Linked DNA regions of Homo sapiens: all the other regions are reported to be linked to region 5. Evidence: microRNA targets listed by miRTarBase, many of them from high-throughput screens and not tested one by one. Region 5 holds a microRNA gene; each other region holds the end of a gene's coding sequence.
What was found. The annotated mature microRNA hsa-miR-4498 reads UGGGCUGGCAGGGCAAGUGCUG and lies in region 5 at 2,985-3,006, shown strand. An mRNA with a match to its seed (bases 2 to 7 or 8) in the 3' UTR can be bound and repressed. Matches are read on the target gene's strand: a 7mer-m8 pairs with bases 2 to 8, a 7mer-A1 pairs with bases 2 to 7 and ends in A, and an 8mer does both.

Region 1 (5,084 bases), not on the chromosome of region 5:
CTCCCCAGACCCCGTCTGTCCTCAGGGGTATAGAACAACCTCTGCTGCACTTGGGGAGGGAGTATTCTAGCCAAAACTAGAAAAGCCTGCCCCCTAGTTTGAACTACCTTCAAAGCTGGCGGCAGAAACCATCTGGTGAGTGGCGTCCCTCCCGCTGGGGACATAGTCCCTTTCAGTCCAGCCCAGGCTCTGGACTGTCTACTGCTCAGCGGTGGTGCCTCTTGCTCCGCCTGCCCACTGAAGCTGTGGCAGCAGCATGGGGCAGACCCAGAAGTCACACCACACCTCACTGAAGCAGCCACTGTGGAGGGCCCAGGCCATTGTGAAGGTGGAGAAGGAGGAGGAATGGGTGCAGACCTCAACTCTCCCTGCACTCAGCCGGCAGGGATGAAGGAATGGCCCCAAGCTCTCCAACTGTGGCCATTCACCCTTCAGCAAGGGGATGGCCATTCCAGGAAGTTTCTGCCTGGGATGAAAACACAGCCTTCAAGGAACAAATAACTTGAGGGGCAGAATTCTGTCACATGGGAAACTGGCCATGTGATTCGCCAGGCAAATTGCTCTCCCTTCCCAAGGGCTGTGCTGCCTTTCTTTGGGCCTCAAAGATAAGACAGCTGCACAAACCACCTGCGGGTGTGCCCCTGCCCACAGGGGAGAGGCCACAACATGCCACAGCTGGGACCCACGGAACAGGTATAACCCTGGCTCCTCTTTCCCCAGATGCTTGCTCTGCCAGGGCACGAACACTCCATGTGGATCAGGGTCTCCTGCTCCCCGTTCCAGCAGATGCAGACCACCAAGCAGAGTACAATGGGGCAGCCCCTCCACTGTCCACAGAAAGTACTGAGCTCCAGCTCCCCCGGGCCAGGGCTGGCAGGAGCCCTGCTTGGGGAACAACCTGCACAGCTCCATCTGTCACACTAGGGGGTCACAGCCTCCACCAGCTCATAACTCTCCTGCCCCAGCAGCCCTGACATGAGCTCCCCTTCCTTGGAGCCTTGTCTTCTGTGAATGGATGGAAGAGGGCAGGAATCTTAAGAGACAAAGAATATTTTGAGTAACCCAATGAAGTCAAAGAGGAAAGAAGCACTCTCGTCTATTCACCTCCCACACATGGGCACTGGAATTTACGTTTGGACACAGATTTCAAATGTCACAAGGCCTGGCTTGGGACTTTCTCTCCAAGATGCAAAGCAGGCGCCCTTCAGAACACCTTTGGCCTCTACTCAGAACTCCTGGGAAGTGGCACAAACACATACATTTGGTCTCTGTTCCCAGCTCTGGCTGCTTGCCCCGGACAGCCTGAGTTTTTTCTCCAGCATGGGGCTATCATAGCTATGCACCTCCTGATGTTCGGGCCCAATGTTGGGACAGGCTCAGGGTCCAGAGCTTCCCAGATCCACGCTGCCCATGGTGCCCCAGCATCAGGAAGCCATCTCAGCAGCTGACCAAAGTGTCTTTTATTTGTGACATACAAATACAACCAATGCAAGAAGAGATCACTTTTTCCCTTTGATTCCAGTGATAACAAGCTGCTAAAGAAAAAAAAAAATATATATATATATATATATATCAAGGAGTTTATCTTCCAAATTTCCTCTTAAAAAAAAATTAAAAAGAACCATTCACATGTCCTATACATACTTGACACCAACAAAAATAACCTGAAATAGGGTGGATATAACTAAAATTTTAAAAATCTTAAAAAAATCTTAACATGCTCCAAACAAACAAACAAAACACAAAAAGCCTGGTAAAAAAGGCCTGCTATGTTTCTCTTTTTTTTTTTTTTGAGATGGAGTCTCACTCTGTCGCCTAGGCTGGAGTGCAATGGCGTGATCTCAGCTCACCACAACCTCCACCTCCTGGGTTCAAGCGAGTCTCCTGCCTCAGCCTCCCGAGTAGCTGGGATTACAGGCCACAACCACGCCTGGCTGATTTTTGTATTTTTTAGTAGAGATGGGCTTTTGCCATGTTGACCAGGCTGGTCTTGAACTCCTGACCTCAGGTGACCCGCCTGCCTCAGCCTCCCAAAGTGCTGGGATTACAGGTGTAAGCCACCGCACTCAGCCATGCCTGCTGTTTCTCAAAACCAAGACCTGGGGGAAGTGGAGAAAGATGGATGTTTTGGAAATGAATGGGCTCAAGACCAACAAGAGTGATTGCAGGTCTCAGATAGTGCCTCTCCCACCCTAGTCCCGACCTCCTGAGGAACCCTTCAGGACATGGCCTGCAGAGACTAGGGTGAGCAGGGTATGGCACCAAGCACCCATTGACCAGTTGGTGCCACGTATCCAGTGACTGGAAAGAGACAACGTAGACTGAACTCACCTTACAAGGGATGAACACGGGGGGGTCCCTTTTGGTCCCCTTGAGTGAGAGGTATCAGGAATCCATGATCTAAGACAATAAATATTTAGCATCTGTGTCCTTTCAGAGACAGGGACCAGAGACAAATCTCTTCCTAAACATGCTCCTGTGGTTTCATGATTCTTAGGAGTCCACCAAACCCCTCCAGCAATGTCAACTCTGCCTGGGATGAAACCCACCAGGAGCCAGCAGGGTGAGGCAGAGGCAGAGGCAGACTTATTCCAGTGTAAAGCTGCAAGGCCCTCTCTAAGGAGTTCCCAGTCCCACTGCTGCCCATCAAGAGCAGCGCAAAGTGCTCAGCAGAGGGGCCAGGCTGGGTGAGGGAGGCCCTGTGTACACAGGCTCCTGCACAAGCAGGAATCCAGGTGAGAAGCAAGGACCACTCTGGGGAGATCTGCCAGGAGAGACTGCCAGAGTTGGGCAGAGGGTGGGATGTGAGCAGATGCTGAGGTCAGAGGGACCAACAGACCTCCACGAGAACAACTTCACGAAGGCTAGAACCTTTATGATACTCCCCACAGCAGAGCTCAGGGATATCCAAAGGGAGCTGTTAGGTGCTTTTTCCTTGATAAGGATTTGGCTTTTCTTCCCTGGAAGAGGAACAAGGCCTAGAGATCAGGATGAGCATTAGTTCTGAGCCTGCCTTTCTATCCTATGAGAGAAGAGGAAGGCTTTCTCCTTCCCCTGCTCCAGCCTGTTGCCACAGGGTGACACCAGAGAGAAAAGCAACTGTTGGCCACTGAGAGGCATTTCTGCTGCAGCCTGAGCTATGGCCCGGCTGGGCCACGGCAGTGGCACTAGTGCCTCACTGAGGCAGCGAGGGGCAAGCCTGAGGAGTGCAGGCAGAGGGGCCTGCTGCTGGCTGGGGGCTCTCTGAAGAGGGAGGGTGGCTGTGGGGAGGTGTGCCCTACCCTTAGAGAGCTATCAGCACCAAGATAGGAAAATCAATGGAGTTAACTACATGAGGAACGAGAAGTCCTTCTGGGGAAGATGAGGGGCTCCCTGATGTTATTCTCCCCTTGAGACTAAGAACAGAGGTATTTGGGGTAGAGGTGAGAGGCAGAGGAGAAAGAACGACGAGGGCTGGCAGACAAGAACAAGCAGAACCTCTGGCTTTCTTCTATGAATCAAAAGCTCAAGTCACTGCCATGAGACCAGGAGGTTAAGCTTAGAATGCAGCAACATCCAGGAGCCTAGAGAAGCAATCATCCCCATGGCGGGTCCCAAGAACACCTCATTGTTGGTCCTTTCAGGCTCTCTGACAGCGATGGAGAGGCAGTCTTCCTCCCAGAGTCAGCTGGTCCCAACATGAGCCCACTCCATGAATCCATAAAAACAGCTGGAAAGAGCTTTCTTCATTTCCCTGCATCTTGGCACAAAAGATCTTCCCAGTCTCCGTTAACAGCAATTCCAACTGCGCAAGCGTGAGTCTCTCTGAAGCCGCCCTCTACACCCAGATCTTACACCCAGTGTGTTCCTCTTTGGGGACCAGCAAACCCCAGACCCAGGACTCCAGAACTTTCATAAAGGTGGACATAAACATTCCATTTGTCCAAGTGTGTATGTGTCAGGGGAGGGGAGGTTGCCAGGAATCTAGGGGCTGCAGAGGTGCGAGAACCTCCACTGCAGGCCCCAGGAGCCAAATGAGGAGGCAGCCACTGTGGAGGATGAGCTTCACTGCCCGGCCCCACCTACTCTTCCCTCTCCCTTTCATTCCCTTCTAGCACTCTGGTCTCCTAGGAGAGGAGGAGCAGCTGATACCACTTCTCCCCAGGGTTCTGTGCTCTCAGGGCGCAGCCTGGCACGTGCAGGGCTGGGGAGGCCACAGCTCTGAGGACACCCGGTGAACAGTGAGACCAGGAAAGAGGAAAGGCCTTAGGAGAGAGCATTGTGACTTGAAAGTGGCTCTGAGAGTTCAGTGGCAGCAGCCACCACAGTGCCCACCCGCGTGGGAGTGATGGCTGTCCCCAAACTTGGTCCTCCGGCTCAGGATCTCATAGGAGCAATCCTCCCCACAGCAACCGGACATGCTGGGGGAAGAGTCATCAATTTCAAATCTGCAAGGCAGGCAGGAGAAAAGGGTTGGTGGCAGGCAGCTGAGTGCCTTCCTCCCTGGCCCGAGAACTCTTCTACCAGCCACACTGATGAGACCCTTAGGATGAGGGTGCAGGAGGTGGACAGTGGACCAAATCAGAGAGCACTGCCATACCATCTCCCTGAACCTGAACCCCCATGGACCACTGGACCATGAGCTCAGGCATCAGAATGAGTGAGGGCCAGGACCAGAAAAATGGCCCTGGGCAGGCCCACCTACCACCCAGAAGGGCCCACACCCAGCTCCTTACTGCAACGCTTCTCTGAAGAACTGGTAGGCACCATGATTGTGTTTAAATACTGTTAACATAACCTTCTTCATCTGTGTGCTGGAAGAAAGCAGAGCAAACGCCTTTTAGAAAGAGAAACATGGCCAGGCATGGTGGCATGCACCTGTAATCCCAGCACTTTGAGGGGCAAAGGTGGGAGGATCATTTGAGCCCAGGAGTTAGAGACCAGCCTGGAAAACATAGTGGGACCCCATTTCTACAAAACATTTAAAAATTTAAAAAAATCAGCCCAGTATAGTGGCATGTGCCTTTAGTCCCAGCTACTCCAGAGGCTGAGGCTAGAGGATCACTTGAGCCTGGGAGGTAGAGGCTGCAGTGAGATACGATCAC
Region 2 (5,000 bases), not on the chromosome of region 5:
CTGGGACTACAGGCGCTCGCCACCACACCCAGCTAATTTTTGTGTTTTTAGTAGAGACGGGATTTCACCTTGTTGGCCAGGCTGGTCTCGAACTCCTGACCTCGTGATCTGCCTGCCTCGGCCTCCCAAAGTGTTGGGATTACAGGCATGAGCCACTGCACCCACCCGGAGGCATTTCAAACCATGAGATGGGGTGAAACCTTCCAGGGAGTGAGAGAAAAGGTCTAAGGACTGAGCCCCTGGGTTCCCCATCATTAGGAGGTCAGATGAGAAGGAGCCAGCCATGAAGACTGGGAAGGAGTGGCTGTTGTGGGGAGGTGGGTGGTGTCCTAGACACAGGTATCTTTTTAAGGCAGAGGGGCCCGGAAAAGGATCCTTGTAGTTTGAGTAGTTATGCCTCTCTCTGAGCATGGGCAGTTCGTTGGTGAACTGACAACGTGAAATACACATGATGCAATTCCACCGTGTGTCAAGTTTGAAAGCACTCCCTGCCAGTAGCGTGTGGGAGTGTAGGAATGGCAATTGTAATGAGACATCACAGTGTAAAATTCCTGAGCTCTGCTCTAGTACAGCCTGGGGACAGACGTCTGGGCCAAGAAGGGCTTCTGTGAGACAGCATGGAACAGTGGCCTGGTCAGAGAGACTTGGGCATGCATCTGAGGGCTGTAAGCCTCAGTTTCCCCATCTGTAAAATGGAACTCTAATCGCTGTCTCCATCTGGGAGGATTTTGTGAGGATTCAGAGAAACTGCACATGAAATGCTCCACCAGGCCCAGGAACTTACCAAGGTCTCATAAACGTGAATGATTCTATAACTGTCAAGCCTCTGCCAGGGGTTCTGAATGCTCGAGTGCAGACCAGAGCCCATGGGGACGCCCCTGTGCAGATCTGCTCAACCATTTCTTTCTTTCTTTTTTGAGACAGAATTTCACTCTATAGCCCAGGCTGGAGTGCAGTGGTACGATCTTGGCTTACTGCAACCTCTGCCTCCCAGCCGGGTTCAAGCAATTCTCCTGCCTTAGCCTCCCAAGTAGCTGGGACCACAGGTGCTTGCCACCACGCCCAGCTAATTTTGTCTTTTTAGTAGAGATGGGGTTTCACCATGTTGACTAGGCTAGTCTCAAACTCCTGGCCTCAAGTGATCCACCCACCTCGGCCTCCCAAAATGCTGGGATTACAGGCCTGAGCCACCGCGCCCAGCTATTCACCCATTTCTTACTCCCCCACTCAAGAAGTCACACCACTCTTGTCATTCCAAGAAATCTTAATTTCTTTATTGTTTGACTTTTTGACTCAACAATTTTTTTAAAACTTTTTGTTTTTTTCTGAAACGTTCTTGTTGTTATGAGCCTTTTGTTTTGTTCTCGTTAAATGCACTCGACCCAAAATTGGTTTGGCATATCGAAAAGGAGACCAAGGAGGGAGGGGCTGGGGCGTGGGAGGTGGGGAGGAGGCCCGAATGGACAGAAAGTTGAGGATAAGAGAAGAGGAACATAGAGACAGCCAGAAAGACATGGGGAAAGAGTGTTGGAGACAGAGAAAGGGGAAGGCAAGGGAAAGCCAAAAGAAACCAAAATCCAGAGAAAAAGAATTAACAAGATTTAGGAGCAAACGAGTTCAGGAGCCTAAGGAAGGGAGTAGGAGAGGAAACCAAGACCCTTCTCTGTACCGTCCCAGCTGGGGTGGGGGCGTCAAGGCACCAGGTCTGGTTAGGTTGGGGGGACACCTGGGCTCTGGGGGCGGCTTTGCACTGGACTGCAGTGATGTCCAGCCCCAGCAGGGGGCCCTGCCACACAGCTCTGAGGCCTGGAAGCCACCCGGCGATGCCGGCTGGAACAGGACCCGATACACCCTCTCTCCCTTTGATTGTCCGAGTCTGGAGAGATACAAGGAAGGCTGGGCAGGGAGGAAGTTGGCCTCTCTGTGTGCCTCAGCCCCCTGGAACTCTCCTGGCCCTCCTCCTGGTGTCGGGGGCAGCCACAGGCTGGGCTGCTTCCCGGGACAGGCCAGCTCCTCGCCTGCTCATGCCTCCTGCCCGCTCTTCACAGACCTCTGACCACCCCTCCACACAACAGAGCTCCCAGCCTAGTGCAGTCCGGGAAGGGCCATGGAACTGTCCCTTGCCCTCCTCAGAGTCGTCTGGCAAGACTGTCCCTGGCCTCACTTCTCCTCCCCATCTAGACTTCACCCATGGTCTTCTGGTGTAATGGGTTAGGCCTTTCTACCAGAAAAAGCCAGAGTTGGAACCCAACCCCACCTCTTCCCCACACCTGTTCCCTTACACGGGACAAACCACCATCTTTGGTCTGACCCCTTCTCCCCTAATTGATGGGGACAAGCCAGCCCCAGCTCCCCGGGAGAAGGGAGGGGCTTTCTAGCAGCAAAAAGGGTCCCTCCAGCCACCTACCTGTCCCCTTCCCCCCAGTTCCTTCCTAGAGCCCCTCCCCCTTAACCCAACAAAGTTCATGGCAGCAGCAGGCTGAGACCCGAAGATGTTTGAAAACTCATGGCACTTGTGAGAAAAGGAGGGGCAGAGAGATGGGGAGAGGTCAGAGCAGAGGTGGAGGGGCCACCTCTGGGGAAACGGCAATGCAGGGGCTGGGCTAGGGTGGCCTGGGGCTATGCTGCCCCTAGAGTTGAGGGAAGGGGGCTGGGGAGGCTGGCCTGACAGGCTGGAGAGGAGGGGGCCGGGACAGGTGCTCAGGACACATCCCGAGCCTGGAGCTTCCGGGGTCTGGGATTTGGGGTCAAGCCGCCCAGAACATGGGTGTCCCGACCCCAGCCCTGGCACCTGGCTTCGTCTTCCCTGCGGGAAGGTGGAGGATAGGGAAGGTGATCTCTCACCTTTGCCCCTCCCCATCCCCCAGACCGCCTTGCCGTTCCCAGCACCCTCCTCAGCCATACCCATGCCCTCCACAACCCCAGTGCCTCCCCATTTTCCTTCTGCCATCAACCTCTCTAGGTGGGAAATCAGCCCCATCTTCCCCGGCGAGAGTCCCCAGAGCAATATACAAGAAGCAGGAACTCAAAGGGACAGCGCAGCCATCTTGACAAAGCATCTTTGGGTGTGAAGAGGTCTCCCCCGGGCCGGTGGGGAGGGAAGGGGGAGACAGGCCTCTGGTCCTGGGGCAGGCAGTGAGAGGTACACGCCCCAGAAGGGCTGATGATGCCGGGCAGGCGGAGCAGGAAAGGAGGGTGCCAGGAAGGAAATGGGTTCTTTGTTTCGCTGTTGCATCTAGATTTTGTTTTCTGTCTCTGGATTGTAAAAAGCTGCTCTGGCGGCCCGCCCGCCCCGGCGGGGACTGGGGATGCACGTACACGGAGAAGTCCTGGCTGCCAGGCCAGCAGCGCTGCTCTGCTCCGGAGAAAGCCCGGGCTGGCCCGGGCCGCAGGCTCCCGGTGGCTTCAAGTGATGAGATTTTTTTTCTTTTCTTTTTTTTTTTTTTTGTCTTTTTTTTTTCTTTTCCATTTCGTTGAAATATTTACAGCAATGGGGAAGGAGGAGGAGAGAGGAAGGAGTAAGAGGGCCCCCTAGGGAAAGATCCAAGCCCAGGACCCACTCCCCAGGGAGATCCAGACCCAAAATCTGCTCCCCAGATAGCCGAGCCCACAGGACTGGGAACTGCCCAAATATGGCCACCCCTGTGGGCTGGGGGCCCTGCGGGGAGTTGTGCTTCATCAGGAGTCGCCCCAAGGGAGGGGGTCATTGGGTGCACTGGGAGGCAGAGGGGGCAGGTTTGCTTGCGGGGCAGGGACCAAGAGCAAGGGGAAAGGAGCTTCAGAGAAAGTTCAACCTTTAAACCACCAGCCACCACCGCCCAGTCCCCCTGCCCTGCGGCCTTTTCCCAGTCTCCAGGGAGCAGGGAATTACAGCGCAGGAGGAACCTGTCCATCTGTCCTGCCTCACTGCTCCCTCTGGGTGCAGCCGGCAGCATTTCTGGCTGCGGAGAGGAGCAGCTAACAGGTTCCATCCAGTGGGGGCCTTTGGCAACCTCAGAAGCTGCCCCTCCCTGCCCAGGAAACTAAAGCCCTCATTTCCCTTCACAGGGTAGAAGGGTGGGAGAGGGGAGAGTCTGGAAGTGGGCTGCACCCTTCCAAGTTCTCCCTCCTCACTCCCCTGGGGTCCTCTGGGCTCCTCCTCACTACACTTCCCCCAAATAGAGCTGGTGCGTGTGGCTGGTGGGAAACCCTGTCTGTGAACCCTGGCACCTCAGGCCCCCAGGTTAGAGTCCCCTGAGGGGACTGTAGGGCCCATGGCTGAGGGGCACCTGGAGAGAGTGGCCCACCAGCCACTGCCTCCATCTGTCTCCCTCTCCCACCAGAGCCCTGCCCAGGGTTCCCTCCCTGGCCTGGGCCACCAGCCCCTGGTCCATGAGGTGCCCTCAGAGACTGGTGACCAGCTGCATCTGCCCGTCCCCATCGGGCCCTGGCCCCTCAAGGCCTGGGGCTGCCAGGTAGCCCTCGTGGCTAGGACGCCGCACCTGGTAGTAGCCCTGCAGGGGATTCCGGGCCACCAGGGCTGGCGGGCGCGAGGTGTAGTAGATTTCGGGGGGGCCGGGGGGTGCGGGAGGGGGTGGGGGCAGGGCCTCACTGGGCCCCTCAGGGCTGCTGTCCGGGTAGGAGGGTGAGTCCCGCAGGTTGGCCCCGCTGGCATAGAGGGAGTCCCGGCCAGGAGGGGAGGAGAGGGGCCGGCTGGTGGCGCCGTCCTCGGCCGTGCAGCTCTCCGACTCGTCCAGATCGCTCTGGTACAGCACCGACTGGGCCCGGGGCAGCAGCAGAGGCTCCTCCAGGGCCTTATAGAGAAGTTCAATCTCGGCCCGGTCAGCACCCCCGGGCCCGCCCGCCTCTTCCTCGCCCCCGCCCCCTGGCACAGGTGGCACAGGGGGCTCAGGCGGTGGAGGGCCCTTGGCCGCGCTGCTGCTCCCCCGCAGGTTGTTGTGCACCAGCTCTGAGATGATCATCTTCTCAAAGGCCGCCGCATCGGCTAGGTTCCGGCCTCG
Region 3 (5,084 bases), not on the chromosome of region 5:
GCAGCCAGGCGGGTCAGTGTGAACTGGGTGCGCCCCGAGGGATGGGGCACTGGAGACGACCACGTGGTGGGGCTGAGCAGACTGAGAAAAGTCACACTTGAGAAAACGGAAGACGGCAGCAAGATGCATGAAGGATGGTGTGTCTCCAGGGCACCTGAAGGGATGCTGCTGTGCATGCTGTCATGCTTCTGTCTAGGGGCCTGGAAGGTTCCCTGGGGGTTATAGTATCCTTTGAAATAGGCCTCTAAGGATGAGGGGGCTCAACAGGCAGAGATGGGAGGGGCCTGGGACCAGGCAGAGGAGACAGCATGGGCAAATGGGAAGGGGAGATGGTGAGAACTGAGAGGGGCTGTAGAGTTAGCGGGAGTGGCGGGACAGAGGATTGGGAAATTCAGAGGGATTGAGTGGCGAGGGCCATCTGTCCTGCCTCTAATAATGCTCACTGACCCTCTGAGTGCCTTATCCAGGGGGTTCCCATCATGTAGCAGTTCAATCCTCCATCTCCCACTTCAGCCCTCCTCACCACCCCCCTCCCTGTGTTCCACGATCACCCTGCCCATCGCAACTGCTGCACCTCTGTTCCAGCTGTTCTTCACATCTGGAATGCTTCTTTCCTTCTTGTCGTCCAGCTCCAGCCCCTTCTTCCAGGAGTCTCCCCTGACACTTCAGCCCAGCCTGAACCCAAGGCACTGTGGCATAATGGAAGGGGTCAGGCTTTTTACAGTTGCAGAGAGGTAGGCTCAAATCCCAGCTCTGCTGTATGATTTTGAATCACTACCTTCTCTTATTAGTAACTACTAATAATGTTTATTGGCTATGTATTTGCCAAGTACCATGGATTACCTCATTTAACTTTCACCACAACCTTATGAGGTAAGTACTGTTATCATTTCCACCTTACTACTGAGGAAACTGAAGCTCAGAGAAGGTAAGTAACTGACCCATGGTCACACTGCTAGGAAGTGGCAGAGCTGGGACGCCCGTCAGGTCTGTCAGGCTCCAACGCCTCTGCTGCTAAACACCACAGCTCCCACTAGACTGCTTCCTTAGAAGGTGCATTTATTAGGCGCCTCCTGTGTGCCGGGCATTGTGTTAAGTGCGGGGATGCAGCAGGACACAGGCAGACAAGGGCATGCTGTCGCAGAGGTCACAGCTGGAGTGTCAGGACAACAAGCCCCGTGCTGCAGGGACTGGGGAAAAGATGGGTGACCGCCCCCTGCAAACTGTGGAGCATGGAGCTCACACACGTCAGTAACTTCTCCTTCCTCTACAGCCAGGAAACCTGGGTTCCCATGTGAGCCAAGCTCTGTCACTGTCCTGCTGGGTGGCCTTGAGCTGGTCACTTCCCCTCTCTGAGCCCCAGTTTTCTTGTCCATAACATGGAGCAGTAATAGCTACTCTGGAGGGAAGTCTGAAAAGTAAATGAAATCATACATGGCAGTGCCAGGCACACAGTAGGCACTCAGGAGAAGGCTAATCCGCATCCACATCTGGGACCCGCACAATCCAACAGGCTTATTATCTCCCAAGACTTTAACAAGCACCAGGGTGAGAATAACAGGGTAATCCCTCCAATGGCCTCCAGGCAGCAGGAAAGCTCCACACAGGGCAGTGATGGGGCACTGGGGGGCAGCAACACTGGCTGGACCAACCTCTAGACCCCACCCCACCCCTAACTCACCCACCTCTGCCACCTGCACTGCCACTCACACACCAGCAACTCCAGTCCTCACGGACGGGTGTTTGAGATGCAACAGCACAGACCTCTTACCACCCTCCCCACCTGAGTCAGGATGGAGGAGCGTGGCCTCAAGACCCCCTTTGGGTCCTCTCGGTGGCCCCACACCCGGGCCTGGCTTATTTTACTGCCCATTCCCACTTGGTGGGGGAGCTGTCACAGGCTGAACTTCAGGGCCAGGAGGCCTGGGTTCCAGCCCAGTCTCTGCCTTCTCTGAGCTACACCTTGTAAAGTTAGGATGACTTCCCACCTAACGGGGCTATTGCAAGGATTAAGAGAGATGGATACAGATCGTATGCAAGTTAACATGCCTTCATTACTAGAATCTGTGCTCAGTGCTGGGTTCCAGGCACTGTGTTAGGGGCCTCTCCTGCCCTTCCTATGTGGCGAAGCAACTACCCAACCGACTAGGATCTAGTCCCAGCTCGGCCCCCACTGACTGTAGGGCCTCAGGCAGCTCACTTAACTGCTCAGCCTGTTATCTCACCTGTAAGATGGGGACAATCCCTACCTAACTAGCCAAGCTGTTAGGAAGCTTGGATAAAATTGTACATATTAAGTATTTGGCACATAGGAAGAGCAAAACACAAAGGCGTACCAGCTGGTTGCACTCAAAGCATTATTCTGATCCAGAAATGCCTACTCACCCTTTAAAGCAGCCCCCATATCACCTCCTCCTGGGAGCCTTCCTCGATATGTGCATGATGCTAAAGCTAGGTGCAGGATTTGCTGCAATAGACAAACAGCCATGGACCCTCTCTTCATGGAGCTTCCATTCTAAGAGGGGAGGCAGGCAGGGAAGTCTTAAGTGGGTAATTTCATAGTGCTAAGGAGTCAGTAAAGTGAGAAATCATGGTAGAGAAACTGAGGTGGGAGAGGGACTGCTTGTGTAGGGTGGTCAGGGAAGGCCTCTCTGAGCAGACGTTTACGCTGAATCCTGGATGACAAAAAGCAACCCTGCAAACATCTACAAGAACCGCCTGCCAGGCAGAAAGGACAGCTAGTGCAAAGTCCCTGAGGCAGGGGGACAAGCGTGGCACACCTGGAACAGAATGATCCAGGTGCCTGGAACACAGTGAGCACTGAGTACCCTATCCCTAAGTCTCCACCTCTAGACAAAGCCCCTTGAGGATAGAGATCTGAATGATTGAGCCGAAGCACAGGATGGCCCTGGGACTCTGAGCAGTCTTGCTGAAACTCTGTCGTGGCAATGATGGGAGTGAATCAGCTGGCCCTTCTGCAGACCCATGTACATCTTGGTGGCTACTGCTGGATTGCTCAGCCAGGTAAGGGGTCCCTTCCTGAACCAACAACCCCCAGGTCACAATCTTTGGCAGAGGAAAGCTGGACGTGCCCAGAGAGAAAAATGACCTGTCCTAGGTTAAAAGGCCAGCAGGCAGCAGAAATGGGCCTCCAGCCCAATATCCTCTGCTCCTCTGCCTCCCTGGCCACTGGCTCTGTTCCGTGCATCCCTCTCTCTCCCTAAGGTACGGTGTCAGGAGCCCTAAGGACCATGAGGCATCCAACCGGAGGACTGTGTCAAAAAGGACCGTGTTGGGTGCCTCCTCCTCCCCTGCTACAAATCCAACACTTCGGGCCACCTAAGGGCAAGGATCCCCACAATCTCCTTCCAAAGCCCAGCCCAAAGCCAGGCAACTTACTAAATGTGTGCCTGAGTTTGTACCTGTAGCCCTGGATGTAGCATGAGGTCAGCGTGCAAGGAAAGGCTAGGGGAGCTGGGCATAGTGGCTCATGCCCATAGCCCTGCCTGTAGTCCCAGCTACTCAGGAGGCTGAGGAAGGAGGTTCGCTGGAACCCAGGAGTTTGAGTCCAGCCTGGGCAATATAGCAAGATTCACATCTTAAAAAAAGGGTAAAGAAAGAAAGGCGAAGAGGCTGAAGACTGGCTCCAGGTCCAGTGCTCTCATTCAGGTCCTGCAGCTGCTACTTCTCCAGGGCTGCCAGAGCCAGAACCATTTCCCGGGTCAGCACGGAATGCACCTGCCACTTGGCGCTGTCTGCACAGTGATCTGCCAGCGATCTGCCAGCATTCCAGGGCCTGATATGAGCCATCAGTAGCGAGTCTGCCTTAACAGGAGACCTTGTCCCCTGGGAAGAATGGTGTAAGAATCTCCTGATCCAATCTTCTTCCACGCTCCAACAAAATGTCATTGGAAAAGTTTTATTGAAAAAAAAAATGTACAAATAAGTTCTTGGATTGATAGCAACAAAGGCTCATGTTCCCCCTTCCCTCCCTATCTTTGAAGAACTAAAAAAGGAAGAAACAAAACAAAAAGTTCATCCCCACAACGCCAGACACGATGCTTCTTGACCAGAGTCTGCCCAGAAGCCCCTCCTGGGAGCTCCTTCTCAATCCGCCTCACTGCGGCCAGGTCATTCTGGGGGTGCCTGGTCCCAGGGGCTGCAGCACCTAGTTTTATAGTTGGGAGAGGTTGGGATAGAGCTGGGGAGGCAGCTGAGGTGTTTTAGTGTCAGAAGAGGGCTGGCTGACCCCCCTAGCTCAATTTGGTCTCACAGGTGAGAAGGTACCTGGCTATAAATATGAATACTGATTGAGGCAGGCTTGATCTGGGACTTTCAGGGCAGGCAGAATGACTATGGCCCAGGTCCCACAGGATGTGGAGTTTCCGGGCTCAGCATCATGGTATCTGGGGCCCATGTCCAAGTGGAGTGAATTCTAGCTGGGAAGGTCCGCTCAGGCACACGGGAACCCCGGTCTGTTTTTCCACCCCCACCCCATGGAGTATCCAAGGCTGGTACCTCACCTCCCCCCCAACCCCAATAGCACCCATGTGTCTCAGGAGCCTTTGGATGCCTCCTGCCATCCTGTGTGCACCCTGAGGCCCTATAACTCGTCTCGCATCTTGTCACCCTTAGGCCGGACCAGGCGCCCAATGAATAGCAGGGAGCCGCTTTGGGTGTCCCGCACTAGGAAGATGAAGGGGTGGTCGGCGTAGAACAGCTTGGGGCTGCGCAGCTCCTCGCGCCCGTAGATGTCCTGGTCAAAGGGGTTGCCATCTGTGTCCAACTCAAAGGCGGTGGCGTGGAACACGCTGGCCAGGTACAGGTCCTTCTTGCCTGACATGCGTGACAAGTCGGCCTTGTTCTTGTCAATGGCCTCAGTCAGGCCCAGCCCAGCCAGGTGTTTCTGTGGGAACAAGGAGGTGTGCCAGGTGAGGCCATGGCTGCCAGGCTCCTCCACCCTCAAACCCTCCACCCCATACTACCCTGACCGCTCCTCAGAGAGGAGAGAACCACCCCCTGGTCACCTTCTGTATGCCAGGCATGGCACTGGCACTTCAAATCACAGCTTTCTCAATTCTCAC
Region 4 (5,084 bases), not on the chromosome of region 5:
TCAGCACATTTGTAGAATGACCCAGGAGGGCTCCATGGCAACTGTGCCCCGAGACTCCAGGCCCAGCCGGGTCCCGATGGCGAGAGCGTTGTGGCTCAGTGAAGCACTGGCACAGAAAGGCTGGACTCGAGGAATCGAGGGGTGAAGATGGAGTCGGCTGACATTTTTTGCCTTAAAAATACATTAGGAGTCATAAGCGTGATGACACATGGAGTGTAGCTTCTTGCACCACTGGATCAACAGTAATCAATTTCATGACTCGGATAAGGTCCCCAGGAGCCTGGCAGAATGTACATCTCCCTCTCCCTTCAGAGCCTTACATATAATCTTCTCATGACGATGGCAAACAGATATATTTTAAATTACACGTAACAATTATACATAGTGTATATCCAGATCCGTCTGCAGGCGAACTCTGCATCAGTTCCACATATAAGCCTCACGCCCCCACCACCCTGCAATTTCCCCGTCCTCGGAACTGTCTCACGAGACCACCAGCGCACAGACACGAACATGCCTCTCACACACCCCAGAACGCAGCTGTGCTGGAGTTGGGCACAAAGGCCCCTCACTCCCTGTCTTCATGGTGTGGGTTCTTGGCTGCCAACAGAACTGTCAGCCTTTATTAAGAAGGAAGGGTCTGTGTAAAAATGGGATGTGTGAATCAGAAGAGGGGCCCTGGCACAGAGCCAGGCAGGCTTGCTTTAGCATTGAGTCCTGCGTCGCGCAATGCCCAGGACCTTGCCTGTTAAGTCTGGGTGGGGCCCCTATGGGGCATGTCCACGTGCCCCCCACCAGACTCATTGCCCTGTCTCCAGTCTCCACTGTGGGTTGGGCTGGAGGCCATGCCACGTGGGACTGCAAACACCAGCCAGTTCACAATGCCTGCTCCGTGGCAGGGGCACGGCAGGGAGGAGCTGGTATCATCAGCGTTTCCACCCATCTGAACAAAGGTGAGCGGGCCATGCACCCTTCCAGCTGTGCACAGGGATGTGCTGAAGGTGCAGGAGGCAGTGCGTCAGGGCCTTGGTGGCTGGGGTAGGTGGAGAAGCCCGCTGCCCCCACCATCCTGCGGTCACCCCTGGACTCGTATTGGATCCTGGCCACTGTGCTAGAGTCAGCACAAGGGACCAGGTGGCTGGCTGCCTGAGAGAGAAAATAAGTCACAGTGGAAAGAGTTTTTACTGCTGCAAAAACCAAAAGTGGGGGGAGATCTCAGCAATTCTGACAACAGTATACATTTAGCGACCTTTCTGAGACAGCCTGGGGAAAATGCATCTATCACTGTCCTCTTGATTTGGAAAAATAAATCCGATGCATAAAGCCTTGGACAAGGGTGTGTGAGCAGGGATGATAAGTAGAGTGGGGGGTGTGTAGAGGCCTGGTCTCCTCCGGACGGTGCCCCTCCCAACTGCAGAGCTGCCCTCCTGTAAGCCGGCTCCCGAGCCAGCTGCCAACAAGGCCCCCACTGCCTCCCTGGAGACCCACTTCATCCCCCTCTTCAGCAGAGGTCCTGAGGCAGGGGGGTGGAGATCTGCTGGGTTTGCTGCTTCATGAATTTGGGCCTTCGGAGGTCATGAACACATGCAGGGCAGTCACAGGGGTTGTGGGAGACAGGAAGGGATGTTTACCCATCACAAATGGGTCTTTCCAATGTGGGTATTTGTGGCTGGTGCACAGATAAAAGTAGACACAATACTCCTTGGTGGGTGTGCCTCTAGTAATGTGTAAGTTCTGACTATGTAGGAAAATCCTGGCCAGTGGAACTAAGAATATTCTTGTTTGGGCAAGGGAACTAAGAGATGTGAAACTATCATTTTTTTTTTGCTTGTGTGTATTTTTATTTCAGGGAAAGAAATGAGGGATATGATAAGAAAAAGTCTATTAAAATTGTAAGGCTTACTCCAGACACCATTGCTTAAATCACTCCCCTCTCACACAGAGAGAAAACCCCTGGCAAGTGCACAAAAACACTACTCATAAAAGCACGGTGACCAGTGAACTATTATGCAAGGCACCCCCACGTGTCCTTTCCTAACCAGGAAGCCCGTCCTCTAAGGAGGGGGCATGGGTCCCATCCCTGCCCAGCCTAGGCGTGCTTCTGTGTCCAGCTTTAAGGCCTCTGCGTGAGGAAGGCCACAGACTCCCAGCTGTCAGCACGCTGTCATGATGAGACTTGGAGCAGGGGAGACGCACCTTCTCAATCTACAAAATGAGCCATGGCGCCCATTAAAATGTCAAATGTCAACTCTAAATAGTCTATTGGGTGCTGTCTTGCACGGAAATCTCAGCCAGAAAGAAAAACTAGAGAAAAGAAAAAAAAGAAAAAAGCAATTCTCTCCCACCACTTCACTTTTCTTGGAGACTGTCTATCCCTCGAATTCTCTTTGCCTATGTAGAAAATAACGGAAAAAAAAATCAAGCAAATAACTACCAGGTCCTAAGACAAGAGACAACCAAAACCCCAACAAAATAAGTTAGTATTTATCAAAATATGTTACAACACCAATCTCCATAAATGTCAATATCACTCTTTGGAAATCGGAGCTCTGGGCTCTTATGATGCTCCCTCTGGAACATTCAAAATGAGATCAGAATAAAGCTCCCAGCAAGGTGAGCAGGCCTGATACGGAGGCTCAGCCCATGGCCATCCACCCGCCCTCCACCGCCGTGTTCACAAATTCTTGCACTTCTCTCCAAGAACCTTCTGGGGGCACAGGGAGGGTACAAGTGCCCTCAATTTATCAGGCTTCTTTCTACCAGATTTGTGTCAAAGGCCAGACTAGGAAGAAATGGAAAGGAAACTAAGTTTTGAAAGCAGCATTTCCATTTCCCCTGGTGTCCAAAATGCCCACATCCCTCCTCCTCCCCCATCAGCATGGGCCTTCTGTCTCCTGAAGTAGACTCAGTGGAACGCTCCACCCACGTTCAGGTTTCCTCTGGCTCCCATCTACAAGGAGTGTGTGTGAAATGGTGCTGGCCGCAGGCCCCGACCCAGGCAAGACGGGGGTGGCGTGCACTGGAGCTATGGGGGTGGGGAGGATGCTCGGGTCTCTCCCACTTGCAGAGGCGTGGGGTCCGAAGCATCCGGATGACAGATACACAAAAGGGACAGCAATATGCCTAGAAATCACCTCCCCTGCGACCCACGCATCTCAGCTATAGGACAGCCGCAGGGGTGATGACATGGCCATTTCCAAGTTAATGTTATGCCCTAACTTAATCTGGTGGAGTGTCACAATTTCATGGACTGTGGATTGATTTCAATTTCATCATGTCACAGAGAGGCCAGACAGCTTATGTCAGGGCCAGAAACGCATGACCCCGACATGTCCTGACCCCAGACTGAGCTGCCACCAGCCTTGAGAACCTTACAGGAGCCACCAGACTGGCTCCAAAGCATGGGAGGGCAAGACTGAGTGAACGGTGGCGACTCACAGGAAACAGACTTCTGACTCGGCCACCATGGGGCCAGTCCTGCAGATACTGTCTCATGTTCCAGTTACTCAGGACACAGCCAGTCGGGGGAGACGGCAGGAGCAGCAAGAACTGGCCCAGGCCTGGAGGCCGTGAGCTGAAGGTCCCTGGTTTACATGCATGTGCACACACATGCATAAGCAAAGCAGGCCCTAATGGGAGTGATCCCTTCTTCCTCATTTGAGTGGAGCCAGCTGCCCTCAGCCCCGGGCAGCTGTCATGGTGTCAGAGCAAAGCCCTGAGAAGCCAAGGGGCAGGCAGGGTCCGGCCCTAATGACCCATCTGAATGCAACCGGAGAAGGACAACAGGCCTGATTTTCCTTTTTAAGTGCACTACTGTCATTTGGCTCTGGGGTGGGGAGCTGCTGGGGACACACTGTTTTGTGGTACTCATCTGGCTTGATTGCTGGGTGTCTGGGGCTGAGCGGGAAGATGGCTGCGAAAGTTTGGAGTATGCACAATTTCAATCCCAGAACAGTCCCCGGGAGGAAGGCCTGGTTCCCAAGATAAGGAGAGAAGGTGACCTCCGTTCTGCCTGAGGCTGCGGCAGCTCGGGGCTGAGCTGGTAGGGGAGGAACTGCTTTGTTCAGAGAAGTGAGGAGACACAGTGGCCAGCCGCAGCCTAGTGGCCCCGGCCAGGCAGCTGTCTGGAGGTGACCAGGGCCCGGAGAACCGGCTGCAGAGCCGAGGGTGGGCTGGGGCTGCAGGTCAAGTAATTGCACCTTTGGCTGCAGTGAGGGTGTGGACGCAGGTGGTTTCTGTTGCACTGGTGGGGAGGGTGGGGTGCCTCCCGGTCCTCTGGGGGCGTCCCTCGGGGCTGCTGCCACCTCCGGGGGGCGGGGCTGTGCGTCACTTGCACTGGTCCAAGTTGCCGTCAGGAGTCCTTGCTTGGTCGGCATCCAGGGACGCCTCCTCGCTGTGCCACAGGCCATAGCCAAAGTAGATGATGAAGCCTGCGGGCCGACAGCAGAGACGGGCGTGAACAGACCGCCGGTTGCACCACCGCAGGCAGGGCTCAGAGCCCAGGGCGGTCCCACAGCAAACCCTCTCAGGCGGCCTGCCCCTGCCTGGCATGAGCCCGCAGCCAGCGGCCCCTGTGACCTTTCCACATCTGGAGCAGCTGCCACACGAAGGCCACTGTCTGCTTCGACATCTGGCAAAGCCCTACGTTCCTCTGGACGGCCTTATGCTGCGGTGTTTCCTGAGCAGACAGAGCAGCTGGGCCAGGGCCACCAGAGGCCATCGGGTCCTTCAGCTTAGCCCCCTGATGCCCCCGGAGGCCACGAGAGTATCGAGAATGTGCACTATGGAGATGGGGTTTCCCGCAGGTGCTGGAGGTCTCCAGGCTCTCAGCCTGGACAGTCCCACTGCCCATTTCTCCACATAACTGAGCGTCAGACTGCAGGAGACACTGAGCCCCAGGAATGGACTTCACATAGGAGTCCACAGCCTGTTCCTGCACACGGGACTCCAGGGTGGGTCCAGGACCTATGCTTCTTACCACCTGCCCAGGGGCTGGGGCCACCTTGTGTGGCTGACACAGGAAAACAGGCCTTAAAGCAAGGACTCAGCCACCCACAGCCCAGGAAAGGAGCTCAGGCTCCTGC
Region 5 (5,084 bases):
GTGGGCAAGGGGGAGCCAGGTAAGGGCTGGGACGGGATCAGGGGCACCAGGCGGTGTGAGCTGGTGCCAGGAATGCTGCTCAAGGCACAGCGTCACCCAGGGCCTCCTGAGCCTGGGGGATTGGACCATATGGAGGATTTCTGAATTGAACCTTCGTAGTCTGTGAATTGCAGTGAGCCCAGTTGAGGGTTTACTTTTTGTCACTGGTGTCCCCATCTCTGTTTTAACTCTCACATCCTGGAACTGGGCAGTGTTTGGCAGTAGAAGCAGAATTGGTTTTAGAACTGGACTACCAGCTGCTGTCTCTGTCCTCGTGCCATGTGCTTCCAGGTGTCAGAACGGGCCTCTGGTCCATCCGTTCCCTACTTTCCCTGAGGATAGAAATAGGCAGCAGTGGCCCGGGTCCCTGCCCTGCCTGCAGAATCTTATCTGCTTCTCGCTCTCACAGGTGCTGCGCCCTTGTCCGCGCCAGCCTTCTCCTTAGTCTTCCCGTTTCTGAAGATGGTGCTGACGGAGATGCCCCACCACAGTGAGGAGGAGGAGGAGTGGATGGCCCAGATTCTTCAGATCCTCACTGTCCAAGCCCAGCTGAGGGCCTCCCCCAACACCCCACCCGGGCGGGTGGACGAGGTTGGCAGGGAAGCTCTGCTCTCCTCTTGGTTTAAAGGGGATCAGGGAGGCAGGGCCTGTGGACACGTTTTGTCTCATGAACAGTTCCTGGTGGGGAAATAGAGAGTGTATGTTTATACCAACAGCAGCCTCACACAGTGTTGTGGGTTTTTTAAGGCAAAAACGGGTCAGACTGCTTCTTTCATGTGATTGTAGACTCTGGCTCTCCTGCCATGCCAGTACATGTCAGTTCACCTGATTGACTTTGTTGGCTGCATGAGATTCTGTGCTATGGATGTACCATGTTTTACTTAACTCTTTACCTGTTGATGAGTTCTTAAGGTTGTTTCTAACTTTTTCCTGTTTTGAACAGCACTGTGATGTGCCCTCTTGTATGTATATGCCCCTTACTTAACCAGTGTGAGCATTTCTTTAGGACAGGTTCATTGGACATGGAATTACTAGATTATATGGCATATTCTGAGCTATACTCTCACCAAGAGTTTTCTTTTCTCAAAGCCTTAATGCAACCTCAGATAGTATTAATATCGTCAGTGATGAGTGAAAGAATGATAATCTCATTTTATTTTGCATTTCATTTAAAGTTGAGTGTCTCTTCATATATTTACGGTCTTTCTGGATTTCATAGTGTGAATTTCAAGCAAGTTTCAGAATTTAGTTTTTAGTTCCTGAGGATCATGGTTGACTGGGGTTAGCACCTGTGGACCTAGTTGTAAACTTAATGAGGTTTCTGTGGTGGGGCCGGTTGTATGATCCAGAATGTTCCCCCGTGGGTGAGAGGATGCCCTGCCGTTGGCCGCCTGGGTTACAGACCTCCCCACAGCCTCATCTCGACTTACCTGCCGTTCTCTCCTAGAATGGCCCGGAGTTGCTGCCTCGCGTGGCCATGCTGCGTCTTCTGACTTGGGTGATCGGGACGGGCTCGCCTCGCTTACAGGTGATGTGGTTTTCAGTTGGCTGTTGCTGTGACTCAGTTCGTGACCCAGACCTCAAGTCCCAGTGTAAAGGGTGGAGTCCTAGTTTCCTTTCAGCCCTTACTTTTGGACTTTGGTAGAAAGACTGCTTTAGAGAGCCAGCCTGACTGTTGTTAGCTAGTGAGGGGTTTTGCTTGGGTCCTGCCACTGGAGCTGGGGTCTTAGCCCTTGCAGTGCTGTAGGGGTGGGTGTTCTCAGTGCATATCCCTCTCTGGCCCCCTAGTAGTAAATGAGTTGCTGACTGAACCAGTGGATTGATGTTCTCCTTAGGTTCTGGCTTCAGACACCCTGACCACCCTGTGTGCCAGCAGCAGTGGTGATGATGGCTGTGCCTTTGCAGAGCAGGAGGAGGTGGACGTGCTGCTCTGTGCCTTGCAGTCCCCGTGTGCCAGCGTGCGGGAAACCGTGCTCCGGGTGTGTGCTCAGTCTCAGAGCCACTGCAGTGTCCCTTGTCACTCTATGCAAGTGCAAATTGCATGATGGGCATTTGAGAGAATGTCCCTCACTCTGGTGGGAGGCCTAGAGGCAAAGAGAAGAAGTCACATGGTTGGGGTCTCTCTGAGAATCAGAACACTAAGCAGTCATGATGTATCACTGTATTTTTTCCTTTACCTTGGAACACTTCACTTAATTTTTAAACTGGAATGTGGACCTTGGTACTTCCACGGACAGAGCTAACTTGCAGGAGGAGTTCAATTCTTTAGCCCACTGCCATGTACTTGGTTTTTCTTCATGGCTTTTGGACCAAAAACTGAAGCATCCCCTTGTAGTGGTAAGACAGTGGTTCCTACCTGCTGATCCACAGCCTCCTGCTATTGATATGTGACAGAGTTTTCACTGGCTTTTGGTAAAATGTGAAAATGATGACAATATAGTAAATTTTTCCTTAAAATTTTTTTGAACAAAAGGAATACGCTTTTTCTGAGGTTTTTATCTGTCTGGTTTATTTAACGTTTTAATTTTCACATTAAAAAAACATTTTACCACCTCACACTCTAAGGAACTTACTTAGAGTTAATTTTAATTGATTTAACTTTAGCCACATGCGGTTAGTGGCTACATCTTGGACAGTACAACCTAGAGAGAGGTGAGGAGGCAGGTCAGAGGCTCTTCTGAAAGATGATGCCTCACACGGTCCAATCCCACCCCTTCCAGGGGCTGATGGAACTCCACATGGTATTGCCAGCACCTGATACTGATGAGAAGAATGGCCTGAACCTTCTGCGGAGACTCTGGGTGGTCAAGTTTGACAAGGAGGAGGAGATCCGGAAGCTGGCTGAGAGGTGAGAGAGCCAGCATGTCGCTTTCTCCTGCTGCATCCTCTCTTCCTTTAGGAAATAACTGAACCCAGTGTGCTCAGCCTCCAGTGGGAAGAAGGGCTGGGCTGGCAGGGCAAGTGCTGCAGATCTTTGTCTAAGCAGCCCCTGCCTTGGATCTCCCACAGGCTCTGGTCAATGATGGGCCTAGACCTGCAGCCAGACCTCTGCTCCTTGCTGATTGACGACGTGATCTATCATGAGGCGGCTGTAAGGCAGGCAGGGGCCGAAGCCCTCTCCCAAGCAGTGGCACGTTACCAGCGGCAGGCGGCGGAGGTTATGGGCAGGCTCATGGAGATTTACCAGGAAAAGCTCTACGTGAGTGACCTGTGCAGCCCTGATGCAGTCTGGGTGTGTGCGGTTGGGTGGGTCTCTGCTCACCCCGCTACTGCTCCAGACAGGAATCTCGGGGCTCACGGTGGCTCAGGGTAGCTGCGGCTAGTTTCCTGCCTCACAATCCTGGTGCCCAGGTCATTGATCTGCCCGTTGCAAAGCATTTACCAACTTGTCTGTTGCAGCGGCCGCCCCCAGTGCTGGATGCTTTGGGACGAGTTATTTCAGAATCTCCTCCAGATCAGTGGGAAGCCAGGTATAACAATTGTTCAGCCTCGTTCTACTCCAAGCTTTGTGAGATGTGGCAGGTTGGCTGGGTGGGTGCTGTGAGGAGGCAGCATGGGTTAATGAAAGAGCAGGACCTCCCTCAGAGTCGGGGAGGCCTGAGTTCCATCAGCCCCTGGAAGGGGTGGGATTGGACCGTGTGAGGCACCATCTTTCAGAAGAGCCTCTGACCTGCCTCCTCACCTCTCTCTAGGCTGTACTGTCCAAGATGTAGCCACTAACCGCATGTGGCTAAAGTTAAATCAATTAAAATGAACTCTAAGTAAGTTCCTTAGAGTGTCCTCTCCTGCACTAGCTGCGTGACCGTGAGCGTGTTTCTCCTTTTCCCCAGGCCTCTGTTTCCTCATCTATATGCAGGGCACAATAACAGAAGCTACCAGCCTTTCTCCACAGAGCCCATGAGTAGCAGTTGGAGGATTAGACAGATGTCTGGGAGCAACTGGGACATTGAAAGACACTTGCCTCCCACAGAGCAGGCTCAAAACACGCAAGGGTGTTAGTTCTCTGAATGGCTCATCCTGGCCGTGTCCACTCCCGTGAGGCCTTGTGTGTCAGTGTAGGGTGGTGTATGGGCCCATCCTGGCTTATTTTTCATTCCAGACCATCAGCCAGGGATAGGACACAGATTCTTTGCTCCATGACTGGAAAGAGTAACAACACTTTGCCCTTGGAGAATGTGTTCACTTCCACAGGCCTCTACATCTGGTTCTTTTACCTCTGTGTTCTCTTACAACCTGCTTTGCAGGTAGAGGGGTGAGCATTGCACTCACATTCCTCTCTGGGGAAACCAACACAGGGCTGGTCACCCAGTAGGAGGTAAAATCAGGGCAGATGGCAAGTCTCCATATGACAAGTGGGTTGTTCCAGAACATTGGGTGAGCACTGGGTGGTGGGCTTCAGGCTGTTCTCTGCCCCCAAAACAGTGTTTGCCTCAGGCAAGCTCCCTCTCCTTGCCGTGCACCAGCAGAGGTTCCACTGGCAGAGGAGGCCCCCTGACTGCCCCTCCTGATGTGCTCCCACTTCTTTCCCAGGTGTGGCTTGGCGTTGGCCCTCAACAAGCTCTCCCAGTATTTGGACAGCTCTCAGGTGAAGCCACTCTTTCAGTTTTTTGTCCCTGATGCCCTCAATGACCGACACCCAGATGTCCGGAAGTGCATGTTGGATGCAGCCCTCGCAACGCTCAACACTCATGGGAAGGTAAGGGGGTCCCAGCCAGGGAACACCCACGGGAAGGTAAGGGGGTCCCAGCCCGCTAAGGAGACACGGGAGGCAGGCGCTAGGGCTGAGCAGGGGCCAGAAATGCTGAGTGCCAAGAGTCCTGGCAGAGCACTTTGAGCCAAAAAGACCATGATAGTGTGTTAAATTCTTTTAAGTCTGTGGCAGTCCTGCCAGAAAACTGGAAGAGCCACTGGCTGGCATGTCAGGATGCCTGTCCCAGAGCTAGACTTGGTCTTGGTCCTCAGGGCAGGGACTGTTGTCCCCAGATGCAGCCTGTAGGGTTGACCTGAGGCTCTGAGGGGTTTGGCTTTCCAGGAGAACGTCAACT
Region 6 (5,084 bases), not on the chromosome of region 5:
TCCTACCAACTCAGATCCCAGAATAGATTGTCTTCATTCTTATCATTAGGATTGAGTGCTTTTGCCCTTTGTAAGTATTTCAGTGAGATGTAGGAAGAGAGGGGATAGTAGAAGCATAGGGGCTATTGGGTGATCTGATATGAGAATGCTTTACTGCAGAATTTCCCAAAGTATGTTCCTTGGAATGTTGTTTTAGGAGAGTCTTATAGGTGATCCACAGTTTTAAATCTCCTTTTTGGAGATTTACTATGAGAATTAGCAAATTAAAGGCTCTGAGAAGTCCTGAGTAAAGAAGTCAAGTTCACTTTATTTAAATCTCAGCTTTTTTCTCCCACACACCACTTTTTCACAGCTGCATTTCTGACTGGACCTGGCTCTAGGCTTAGGCTGGCCAGTAGATTTCCTTCTTGGCTCTCTCCTCCTTGGAGTAGCCAATTTCCTGGACAACTGGCTCTTTTGTCTTTTAACAGTACTTGGCACCAAGGTGTTGTGATCTTCCCACTGGTTTTTTCTCTCTTTAATAGCAAAGAACACTAACTCTAATAGATCCTGCCATATTCTCTCCACTACCTGCTCTAAATATGCAACCCAAATGCTGGACCCTTCCTCTTAATGGGAGTGAATTAGTGTGTGTGTATGGGTGGTCGTGGTGGTGGTGGTGTTTGTTGTGTATTTGGGAAGGAAAAGTGGTCTGTGAAATCAACCATCTGTGAAATCTAGCCATGTGGGTATCTGTCTGTGAAATCTAGCAATCTGGATATCTACACATGGGCTCTCTTTGCCACCCTGCTGCCCATGTGAGAGGTGCTGTAGATGTCTGCTAGTGATGGGAAGTAAAGGGAGTTCTATTCTCCACCTTCTGGAGCCCTGAGGAAGGTTCACTCAGTTCTTCATTTCAAATTTACTATAATAGAAGTAAAGTCTTATGGCACTAGTGATGAAGTATAGGGCATATCTTCCCTGGTGCAGCTAGGTATGTACCATCCCTTGGCTATAGGCAGGGGCAGAGGTAAGGGGGTACAAGGCTGTTTTCGTACACTACAAAGCATATCCCTCAGGTCCCCTTTTTATTCTTCATATGGACACTTCCCCTCCTTCCCTGTCTCCTCACCAGAGTATCTCCTGAGATCTTCATCTCTTCTCCACTCAAAAATTATGGTCCTTCTTTTAGCCATTTTCTGAGTCTTGCAAACCTTTAAGACTTTGGTAGGCCGTAGCTATCCTTGTGCTTTTAATTTCTGCAGACAGGCAAGAAAAAAAAAGCTGTGGCTCCTAAAATCTCTGTGTTTGTGTAAGCACTCATGGAAATCTATACTATGAGGAACATCTTGCTTTTTCCCTTAGGTCTGGATGACTCCAGATCTTTAGGGAATACTACATATCTTGTATTTAGAGGGATAATTGCCTGCTAACACTTGATGTTTGCAACGCTTTTGGGCCTGATTGTGTAGAAAGAGCATTTTTCTCTTCTAACATTGACTTAAATTACAAAACCCCTGCTTCTGTTATCTGTTTCTGTATAACAAATCACTCCAAAACATAGTGACTTAAAAAATCCCCACATAGTTATCTTGCTCATAAATCTGTAACTTGGGCAGGGCTCAGCAGGGACGACTCATCTCTGCTCTGTGATGTCTGCCACCTCAGATGATGAAATATGTAGTCTTTCCACAGGGTCTTTCCTGCATGGTGGCCTCAGGGTAGTTGAAATTCTTATGGTATCTCAAGGTTCCAACAGTGAGTGTTCCAAGAGATCAAGGCTAAAGCTGCTTTTAAAACTTAACCTCAGATGCAATTTGAGATGGGGTCATTACTATGTTTTGAATATAGTTTGTCCCCTCTGAAACTCATGTTGAAATTTGATTGCCATTGTGGCTATATTGGGAGGTGGGCTGAATGGGAGGTGTTTGGGTCATGGGGAGAATCCATAATGAATAGATAATGCTATCCCACGGGTGTGAGTGAGTTCTTGCTCTCTTGGGACTGGGTTTGTTACTTCAAGAGTGAGTTGTTAAAAATCAAGGCTGCTCCTTGTGTTTGGTCTCTCTCTATTTCTTTGCACATGCCTACTTTCTATTCTGCTTCTCTGCCGTGTTATGATACAGCACATGGCCACCACCAGAAGCCAAATAAATGCCAGCGCTATGCTTCTTGGACTTCCTAGCCTCTAGAATTGTCAGCAAAATAAATCTCTTTTCTTTATAAATTAACCAGTCTCAGATATTCTGTTATAGAAACAGAAAATAGACTAAGACAGCCTTGTAGTACTACTTCTGCTGTGTTCTATTGGTCACATAAGACCAGCCCTGATTCAGTGTGGGAAGGGACTACACAAAGGAAAGAATATGAGGAGGTAGGGATCTTTGGGAGACTACCTTGGAGGCTAGATACCACATCTTCCTTCTATTCAACTGTAAAAGGCAAACTCATTTTTAAGATTCATCTTAATTAAACATGCATATGATGTGACATCATTGTACCAAAAAGTTAATGGATATCATGACAGAAAGAAGAGATCAGGACACATGTTTCTGATGCTCCTTTCCAGCCACTGTATTGTTTTTATTAAATGGAATACTGAATTAGAGGCAAAGAGCATTTGTACTAGGCATCCAATTTTACAGAAAGGCAGTCATATGATCTACCCTGGCTCTCAAAGAATCCATCTTGACATCGTACACCTGGTTTTGCATGTGGCATCAGAGAGGGAGGAAATTCTGGATGCTGGCTTTAAGATAAGAGTAAGGCATCCAAACTTCTGTGAAACCAGCAGCCATCCCCTCTCAGTTCCCAACTTCACACTGAGCGGGAACAAAAGAAATAAATGGAGATGAATGATGCTTTGGTTTGGGAAATAATGCTTACATGCATAGGATGCATCCACTTAAGTCTTTTAAAAACCATTGTTCTAATGATTTTATTGCTCTGTAACAAAATAAATCAAACTGACATTGATTCCAAGGTGATTGTGAATTGAAGTTTAACCATGTTAATGACTAATAGGATGGAAGTTTGAATGCTAGGAGGCTTGAGTAGGAAGGCATCACAGTATATTGCATTCTTGTAAACATTAGTATAAGTACAGAGTAATAGAGATTCCCCTAGATGATGCTAATTGGGCCCCTAGTTCCTCTACTTTCTGAAGGAAGAAGCATTAGGATTCTTTTCCATTTTACATCTGCTAGGATTTCATATACTGCCCTAAAGAAGAATGGACTCCAATTTGGCTACATTTCTTCTAAGATGCTGTTGTTGGTTCCCCTCCATGTTCCTAGTTCCCTGCAACGTAGGCACAACCTTCAAAGTGGAGTCCTATAGGACAGCATGAGGGAAAAGTGCTGCCTCCAATAGAGAGGATGTAAAATGAAAATGGAGACTTTTTGTGATAGTCTCTTCCCCAGGTCCATTGCCTTCAAGCAGGGACTTCATAACCGAAAGGGCTGTATAATCTTCAATAAGTAAGAACTCTCTGCTCCACCTTTCCCCACTTCTCCTCCCCACTGTATCTATGTCTCATGTCCTGCTCTGTCACCCAGGCCAGTACCTAGAACAGCAGGAAGGATGGCCTGTCATCAGTCTTTAGGCAGGTCAGGTCTTTGGAGGTGATGCCATGTCAACATAGCCCTCACATCTAATGCACACCACCAGATGTACTCAGAGGACTGAAGAGAAAGAAAGAACAAGCTGGACACTCTGGACAGCACAATCACAAAGAGAGGAAGCCTGGAGAGCACTGGAATGCTGGGGGCTGGGAAGCAGGTCTTTCTGATGCTTTGCACAGAGATTGCTTGGGGCCTGAAATGTGATGACACTGACTGATTGGTACTGGTGACATAGGTCTGGAAGCAGGATAATACTTAGCTACATGGATCTGAACCTTGCACTGGGCTACCCTGCAAACTGGAGCACACTCCAGTGTGTTAACTTACACCACACAGACAGGAAAGGAGTGGGATCCTGGGGGACAGCTGTGGTTTATAGTCCTACTGCTGCTGCCAAGCATGGCATCTGGCTCTGCCTGCTGACTCTCTCAGCCTCGTCCCCACCTGTGGCAGCCTGGATATGCTGTGCAGTGGGCCCTCTGTTTTGTGGCTATTACTCCACAGTCTCAGATACTTGATTCTTGTCTCACTGTTTCCTGGGGGGCTGGGTCAGTGCGGCAGCTCCTTTGGGTTGACGCAGTGTGAGATGAGGCAGAGGCATCGCAGCAGAGCTTGCCTACTGCAAACGGAGGAGGAGCCAGCAATCAGATGTTTTCTAGTACATCAAGGGGGATGAGGCCTTTCTTTTTTCCACTGAGGACTCTGATAAAACCATCTTGTTCTTCTTCAGAACTCACGCAGATCTGAATGCCAAGGAAGAAAAAAAACAAAATACTTTACTGTCAGCAAGAACGAAGTTAGAACCTGCAGCTTGAATCCCTGCTGACTGAGGTTGCAGGAGCAACAAACTGGAAAAGGGAGAGCAGTTTTAGGGTGGGAAACCAGCACAGTGAGAAAAAGGTTTGATAAAAAATTAGGCAAAAACCTAGGTTTGGAATGAGGCCCAGGCATTGAATGTTTTCTGAAATTTAGCTTTATGAATGAGGATCAATAAAATGAGGATTAATAGTACTGTGACCCTCTGAAGAGTCACTGTGAGGACAGAATGAGATAATAATGTTTGTCAAGGAGCCTAGCATGTGGCATGCAATGAATTCTCAGGACATTATTTTAAAGGACCAAAATAATAGCTATCATTCAGCAGACTCCTGTCATGTGCTCAGAATTTTATATGCACCTCATATAACATCAGGAAGTCAAAGGGAACTATTTCACTCCTGGCCTCAAGCAAATAGATGCTAACATTTCCCATATTCTAAAGTAAGGCCACCTATGCTAGACTTTAAAAAGGGGTTGGTAAACATTCATTTGGATACTCTTGCCACTCACCACTCATTGGCCACTGAAGGGCATAGAAGGGTGGATGTGGGCAGATGAAAATTAGAAGAGGTTTATGAACAGAACTATTGTTGTGTTGTGAGTTTCTCTTGCCTCACCTGCTTCCATGGATGACAGGCCTTGTCTTAGGTTGGATTCCCCAGA

Region 1: the mRNA of NAA40 is a reported target of hsa-miR-4498. Seed matches in the 3' UTR shown: 7mer-m8 at 4,181-4,187 and 7mer-m8 at 3,451-3,457.
Region 2: miRTarBase lists ADGRL1 as a target of hsa-miR-4498. Seed matches in the 3' UTR shown: 7mer-A1 at 4,081-4,087, 8mer at 3,646-3,653, 7mer-m8 at 3,374-3,380, 7mer-m8 at 2,648-2,654, 7mer-m8 at 2,596-2,602, 7mer-A1 at 1,986-1,992 and 1 more.
Region 3: miRTarBase lists SERPINH1 as a target of hsa-miR-4498. Seed matches in the 3' UTR shown: 7mer-m8 at 4,238-4,244.
Region 4: miRTarBase lists SLC7A1 as a target of hsa-miR-4498. Seed matches in the 3' UTR shown: 8mer at 4,169-4,176 and 8mer at 833-840.
Region 6: miRTarBase lists STAC as a target of hsa-miR-4498. Seed matches in the 3' UTR shown: 7mer-m8 at 4,144-4,150 and 7mer-m8 at 3,746-3,752.

The regions. Positions count from the first base shown.
Region 1 is chr11:63,953,681-63,958,764 of GRCh38, reverse strand. NAA40 (N-alpha-acetyltransferase 40, NatD catalytic subunit) reads right to left here. Exons shown (of 8, transcript NM_024771.4): 7 at 4,716-4,793; 8 at 1,446-4,427. The coding sequence ends at 4,286. Among named protein-coding and RNA genes, the nearest start is that of NAA40, 17 kb to the right of the region's middle.
Region 2 is chr19:14,146,491-14,151,490 of GRCh38, forward strand. ADGRL1 (adhesion G protein-coupled receptor L1) reads right to left here. Exons shown (of 23, transcript NM_014921.5): 23 at 1,253-5,000. The coding sequence ends at 4,383. The region is part of intron 1 of ADGRL1-AS1 (ADGRL1 antisense RNA 1); the gene reads left to right. Among named protein-coding and RNA genes, the nearest start is that of ADGRL1-AS1, 12 kb to the left of the region's middle. RefSeq lists an enhancer at 1,388-2,131.
Region 3 is chr11:75,571,603-75,576,686 of GRCh38, reverse strand. It overlaps SERPINH1 (serpin family H member 1), which reads right to left. Exons shown (of 5, transcript NM_001235.5): 5 at 3,904-4,906. The coding sequence ends at 4,604. Among named protein-coding and RNA genes, the nearest start is that of MAP6-AS1, 9.1 kb to the left of the region's middle. RefSeq lists an enhancer at 1-180.
Region 4 is chr13:29,510,154-29,515,237 of GRCh38, forward strand. SLC7A1 (solute carrier family 7 member 1) reads right to left here. Exons shown (of 13, transcript NM_003045.5): 13 at 1-4,430. The coding sequence ends at 4,327. Among named protein-coding and RNA genes, the nearest start is that of MTUS2-AS1, 25 kb to the left of the region's middle.
Region 5 is chr12:120,153,395-120,158,478 of GRCh38, reverse strand. MIR4498 (microRNA 4498) reads left to right here and starts at 2,980; the gene lies at 2,980-3,045. It overlaps GCN1 (GCN1 activator of EIF2AK4), which reads left to right. Exons shown (of 58, transcript NM_006836.2): 25 at 1-19; 26 at 449-630; 27 at 1,487-1,567; 28 at 1,875-2,018; 29 at 2,760-2,887; 30 at 3,049-3,238; 31 at 3,439-3,509; 32 at 4,570-4,735; 33 at 5,072-5,084.
Region 6 is chr3:36,545,452-36,550,535 of GRCh38, reverse strand. STAC (SH3 and cysteine rich domain) reads right to left here. Exons shown (of 11, transcript NM_003149.3): 11 at 2,529-4,345. The coding sequence ends at 4,247. Among named protein-coding and RNA genes, the nearest start is that of STAC, 170 kb to the right of the region's middle.